Homo sapiens: one gene and its partner. The protein of the gene in region 2 interacts with the protein of the main gene of each other region in a pairwise test. Each region holds a gene or a part of one and is shown on either strand. Other genes may lie near its edges. The genes, in order: TRIM58 and TLR2.

What was found.
Region 1: the proteins of TLR2 (region 2) and TRIM58 interact in a two-hybrid assay, tested with the Homo sapiens proteins (one large-scale study listed by BioGRID).

What each region holds. Positions count from the first base shown.
Region 1 is NC_000001.11:247,859,930-247,863,762, forward strand, and holds part of TRIM58 (E3 ubiquitin-protein ligase TRIM58), read left to right. Parts: intron 1-687; coding exon 688-783; intron 784-3,833. UniProt on the Homo sapiens protein: E3 ubiquitin ligase induced during late erythropoiesis. Directly binds and ubiquitinates the intermediate chain of the microtubule motor dynein (DYNC1LI1/DYNC1LI2), stimulating the degradation of the dynein holoprotein complex.
Region 2 is NC_000004.12:153,701,037-153,704,109, reverse strand, and holds part of TLR2 (toll-like receptor 2 precursor), read right to left. Parts: intron 1,884-3,073; exon of another isoform or gene 1,219-1,883; 5' UTR 1,203-1,218; coding exon 1-1,202. UniProt on the Homo sapiens protein: Cooperates with LY96 to mediate the innate immune response to bacterial lipoproteins and other microbial cell wall components. Cooperates with TLR1 or TLR6 to mediate the innate immune response to bacterial lipoproteins or lipopeptides.

The DNA of each region.
Region 1 (3,833 bases), on a different chromosome or scaffold from region 2:
ATTCATTACCAGCACATTTTTTTTCAAAATTCATGTTGTTTTGTAAAATATTTTTATTCATTGGACATTATCATTGTATTTCTAGTCATTAAACATTCTGTAACATCTTATTTTAATTCTATCCAGTTAATATAATTTTTTTCTCCCCTATCTTTAATGTTTTAGTTTAGTTATGCTATCGTATATAACAATGCAGTGAGCATACTTTTAGATAAATATTTGATTGTATCTGGTATTAAAATACATTTAAGGAGCTAGGCCCAGTGGCTCATGCCTATAATCCCAGCACTTTGGAAGGCCAAGATGGGAGACTCTCTGGAGGCCAGCAGTTTGACACCAGCCTGGGCAATATAGTAAGACCCCATCTCTACAGAAAACAAAATTAGCTGAATGTAATGATGTGTGCCTGGAGTCCTAGCTGCTTGGGAGGCTGAGGTGGGAGGATCATTTGATCCCAGGAGTTTGAGGCTGCAGTGAGCCATGATCGCAACACTGCACAACCTGAGTGACAGAGCGAGACCCTGACACTAAAACTTAAGTACATTTATGTTTAGTTTTTAATGATATTGAACATTTTTATGTGCTTTCTAGGGACTGTTTAAGTTGACTTTTGTATTTCCTCACACATCTGTGTGACGTTAGGTACAGATTGAGGGCATCTGTAACAGCTGAAATGTTCCCAAACAGGTAAAGCTCCAGATGGCTCTGGAACTTATGAGGAAAGAGTTGGAGGACGCCTTGACTCAGGAGGCCAACGTGGGGAAAAAGACTGTCATTTGGAAGGTAAGACCATGTTGGGGCTTTAGGAGGCTTGCCTGTTTGAAGGATCCAGATTCGGGTCAGTAATTCTTCTACCATCTTCCATTCTCCAGCACTTTTGTTCCATCTCCATATATGCCCAAGAGCACCTCAGAGCCATCCTGGGTCATCCCGTCCCCTCAAATGATATGGTTCATTTTTGTTCTTTTTGTCTCTACTGCCATCACCCAATCCAAATTATAATTAAATAGCTTTGCTAGTTTGATCTTCCTGTAAAACCCACTGCTGTATCCCTGTCACCTAGAATAGCATCTTATACTGTTGCTACCAGTTTGAAAATATTTGTTAGGTGAATGAAATAATGAATATTTCACAACTTTGTAACAGAAGAAGTGTAGCCCAAGGTGATCATCTTATATACAGGGTAATAATCTGAACGTTTAGCCTTTTTTTTCTATCATCTATACATACACATATTCCATTTTTTTATACCTCACTAGCTCTTTTTATTCCATGTTTCATTCATGCACATGTGCGTGCACACGTGTACACACACACACAGTGATTCATACACACACAGTGATTCACATACACACACACACACAGTGATTCTCAACCTGAGGCGATACCTGCCCCCCAAGATAACATTTTGCAATTTCTGGAGATGATATTTTTGGATGTCACAACTGAGGAGGGGTGGGTGCAGTGCACCTGTCATCTAGTAGAGGCAGGAATGCAGCTTAACACCCTGTAGTCCACAGGACAGTTCCCATATCTTGTGAGGAAAAAATGATCTGTTCAAGATGTCAGTAGTGTCAAGATTGAGAAACTACGTATAGAAACTGTGTGTATAGTTCTATATATTCATATAATGTATTATATAATATGATATATAATAGGTTATACTTTGCAGAATATTCCTATTCTTTCTCCTTTTCCAAATAACCCTTCTTTTCTGATCACTCTATATATTTATAATTATTTCCTTCTTGTTTTCTTTGAAAATTTAGTCTTATACTCTGTCTTTATACAGATATTACATAAAGACTTTTTAAACTATATTTTTCTTTATTTACTACATTACTAGATTACAATATAGATATATACGGATAGGAAAAGATAACACTTATCCCAGAAGAAACATGTACATTAAGGCCAGGCGTGGTGGCTCACACCTGTAATCTCAGCACTTTGGGAAGCCGAAGCAGGTGGATCACCTGAGGTCAGGAGTTCGAGACCAGCCTGACCAACACGGAGAAACCCCGTCTCTACTAAAAATACAAAAAAAAATTAGCCAGGCGTGGTGGCACATGCCTATAATCCCAGCTACTCGGGAGGCTGAGGCAGGAGAATTGCTTGAACCTAGGAGGCAGAGGTTGTGGTGAGCTGAGATCGTGCCATTGCACTCCAGCCTGGGCAACAAGAGTGAAACTCTGTCTCAGACAAAAAAAGGAAAAAAGAAAAGAAAAATGTACATTATAGGTAAATGATGTAGATAGTGATAGGAAAGGATAAAAGTTATCAATATTAAATAATATTGATGTTAATAACATTAGTACCTAACGTTACTCAGATGTGTGAAGAAATATTTAAACTTATTAACGTTGATACTGACAAACTTATCAATATTATTAACAAATATCTTTAAACTAGTAGTGACAGTATAAGATGCAATTCTAGGTGATAGGGATATAGCAGTGGGTTCTGCAGTAAGATCAAGCTAGTAAAGCATAGTTTCGATTGGGTAGTGGCAATGGAGATAAAAAGAACAAGAACAAAGCTTTACAGTATTAAATAATGTTCATTACTTGCCTATAATGTACATAGTGGTAGGATGTACATTATTTAATATTGTAATATTGATTGATAATTTTTGTTCTTTTCAGGCTGAAATACAAGTCAGTTGTTTTCAATCCTGGCCTGACCATAGATCTATAAAATCAGAATCCCCATATCGGAGAGCTGAGTTCCTGCATGTTTTAAGCCCTCTACAGATTATTCTTAAGTAGGGATGATACTAAGATCCCTGTTCTAAGCCAAGTAAACTTGCATGATCATTACCATCAAGAATGTCTCCATGTGAGCCAAATGCAGCAAACACATCTTTGGTCAAAAGTTATTCTAAATACTGCAAAACCACCTTTCCTTTTTCTCTGTCTGCAGATATAGTTGTGCTCAAGAGGGTGGTGTGAAAGGAAGATGGATTGCAGGCAAATCGCTTCCCACCTTCCCACCTCACACCCCCTCGTGCCCCAGGTATGACTCTACCCTTCTCCAGTGGCTGCGTTATTTGCCCCACCCCACGACAGCACAGCCTCTGATATGAAGAGAGCTTCTCATATTTACATGAGTTACACTTTCAGGAATCAGTGTATGGAATTCAGACTTGGCTGATTTCAGAAAGAAGATGAAGTTTTCTGAATCTGGTGATTTAGAAAATGGTGGAAGGAGGTAGAGATGGAAAATGGAAGGAAGTAGTTAAGTCTTAGGGGATGTTTAGTTTAAAAAGGTGATAGCTCATGCCTTTTAGTCAAAGCAAGAAGTTATCACGTTTAAAAACAGGCAAATAGGCTGGGCACAGTGGCTCACGCCTGTAATCCCAGCACTTTGGGAGGCCGATGCGGGCCGATCGTGAGGTCAGGAGTTTGAGACCAGCCTGACCAATACGGTGAAACCCTGTCTCTACTAAAAATACAAAAATTAGCTGGGCATGGTGCTGCGTGCCTGTAATCCCACTTACTCGGGAGGCTGAGACAGGAGAATCACTTGAACCCAGGAGGAGGAGGTTGTAGTGAGCCGAGATCGCGCCACTGCACTCTAGCCTGGGTGACAGAGCGAGACTCTGTCTCAAAAAAAAGATTAAAAAAAAAACCAGGCAAATGACTTCACCTACAAGGCCGTATAACAATGTAACAAAACTGCATTTGTACCCCATGAATATATACAAAAAATAAAATAAATCGATAAAACAGGACAGAGAATGGGAGGTATAGATACTTTGAGGGAATAATTTACCTCTCGTACTCAGCTTAAAGTTAGTTTTCGATATACTTATCTTGAGAGAAGAAAATCTA
Region 2 (3,073 bases):
GATGCCAAATGATTTTGCCTTAAAATTAAAGTTTGTAGAGAGGGCCAGGCATCCTCACAGGCTGAATTTTTCAAGTATTCTTCAACCATCAAATTTTCACTGAGATCCAAGTATTCTAATGATTTTAAATGTTGTGAAAGTAAACAAGGAACCAGAAAAACTTTACTGTTTTCTACTGTGATTCTTTTAACTCTTTCTGTAAGTGAATATAAAGTGCTCAGATCATAAAATAAGTAAAACCTTGGAATATGCAGCCTCCGGATTGTTAACGTTTCCACTTTACCTGGATCTATAACTCTGTCATTATCAGATGCTCTAAAATTACCAACTCCATTAAGGGTACAGTCATCAAACTCTAATTCTAACAATCCAGAAATCTGATTCAAAAGTTTCATAACCTGAAACAAACTTTCATCGGTGATTTTCACATTTCTAAATGTAAACTTTTTAATCAATGAATTTGTTTCACCAGTGGATAGTTCTGAAAAATGGAAAGTGTCCAAATCAGTATCTCGCAGTTCCAAACATTCCACGGAACTTGTAACATCTACAAAAATCTCCAGCAGTAAAATATGCTGCTTCATATGAAGGATCAGATGACTTACATTCTGAATTGACTTCAAACTTTTTGGCTCATAGCTCTGTAGATCTGAAGCATCAATCTCAAGTTCCTCAAGGAAGGTAAGTCCAGCAAAATCTTTTCTTTGAATCTTAGTGAAGGTGTCCATATTTCCCACTCTCAGGATTTGCAATTTTGTGAGATGAGAAAAAAGAGATGTTTCCCCTAGGGTTTTGTAAGGATTTCCCAGTAAGTTTAAGAATGTTAAAGAAGAAAGGGGCTTGAACCAGGAAGACGATAAATTAGATAAGTAATTATAGGATAAGTCTAAATGTTCAAGACTGCCCAGGGAAGAAAAAGAATCTTCCTCTATTGTGTTAATTCCATTGGATGTCAGCACCAGAGCCTGGAGGTTCACACACCTCTGTAGGTCACTGTTGCTAATGTAGGTGATCCTGTTGTTGGACAGGTCAAGGCTTTTTACAGCTTCTGTGAGCCCTGAGGGAATGGAGTTTAAAGATCCTGAGCTGCCCTTGCAGATACCATTGCGGTCACAAGACAGAGAAGCCTGATTGGAGGATTCTTCCTTGGAGAGGCTGATGATGACCCCCAAGACCCACACCATCCACAAAGTATGTGGCATTGTCCAGTGCTTCAACCTACAAATAAAAGAGGTTCAAATAAGTCATTGTGTTTGACAGCATATCGTAATTCTAATTCTTGAGAAATGTTTTCTAGGCATAACACACACACACACACACACACACACACACACACACACACACACAAAGAGAGAGAGAGAGAGAAACAGATGAATGGAACGAATGAATGGGGATAAAAAAATGAATTCCCTGATACATTCAGCAATGCTAACACAGACATACAACCACTATGCAGTACTTAAAAGCACAACCATCCGGAATTACAGAGCAAGACTCAATAACATGGATTGGAAGAGTGAGTAAATCAATGAATGGAGGAATGAGCAATCAAGCCTTTTAAGAAATGGGCTAAGCTTAACCATATGGATTTACAATCACCTTTTTCTGCACTTCAAACTTTCTTAACATTTAAGCATTTCTTTTCTCCGCTTCAGTGGCCGCCTTGATTCATAGAGATCTCACAGAACCAAACTATAGTTCTCATTCACTGAATGAAACTCCAGGAGTAGCATGCTTTGGGACCAAAAGAAAAAAGTTCCATGTTCATCAACCTGCCTCACACCTATCACTAGCAGGCAGGAGGGGTGTTGGAAACTCGAGGCAGACCAAGGTGGTTTGCTGAGTTGAAGGAGACTCACACCATCAGAACCCTGTCTTCCTGCCTAGAAGTAAATGCAAAAAGCAGTGTTTAAGTCTGGATGGGCTGTTCAGATTAATGTGGGGGAAATAAAACTATCTGCACCACAACTGCTAGTTTACTTGTAACCATAAACCCAACAACTTTCTCTTTGCCTACCTTCTGGGCCCTATATCATTCTTTGGTCTATTCAGCTACCTCATTTCTTGCATCTGTATGCCTTTGTCTGTATTTTCTCAGTGTGCTAACTATACAAAAATTTTTTTAAAAAATTTATCCCCAAGAACAAAACTTTTTATGAGTAAAACTAATTCCCCACATTCACAGAATCTGAGAGACTATAAAGGCCTGAGCTGTACAATTTATGGCCACAAAGAATTAAAACACAAACATGCTTGGTTTGGGAATTTAAATGCTGTTGAAGCCAGAATTTTTGTGTTCGCACCAAAACCACTGCTTCGCATTCCCTCTTTTTTTTTTTAAATAAATGGGTCATACCATGCATATTTATTCTGGATTTTCTTTTTTTTTTCCTTAGCTTTATTAAGGTATAATTGGTATACAAAGAAACTGTACATAATCAATGAACACAATTTGTATACATTATGTATACACACATATGTATACACTCATGGTATCATCACCGCAATCCAGGAAGTAAACATATTCATCATCTCCAAAAGCTTCTGCCACTCTGCGGTTGCCTTTTCACTTTCATAATGGAATCTTTTTGTCTTAGTCCATTAGTGCTTCTGTAACAAAATACCAGAGACCAAGTAATTTATAAAGAACAGAAATGTATTTATTATAGCTCTGGAGGCTGGGAAGTCTAAGATCAAGGCATGTGCACTGTTGTCTGGTGAGGGCTTCTCTCTCCTTCCAAGATGGTGCCTTGTTGCTGTGTCCTCACATGGGAGAACGCAAGAGGGCAAGGGGGCACTACATTCCATCTCAAGGCCTTTTATAAGGATGCTAATCCCATACCTGAGGAAAGACCCCTCATGACTTAGTCACTTCCCACAGGTCACACCTCTTAATACTTAGTTTTAGGATTAGTACTGTTACAATGGGGATTAAGTTTCAATATGAATTTTGGAGGAGACACTGCTATTCAAACTATAGTACTTTTGATGAACAGATGTTCTTATATTTTATATATTTTAATAGTGAGTTTTCTAGCCTATTTTTAAAATATTTCCTGTATTTTCATAAAGA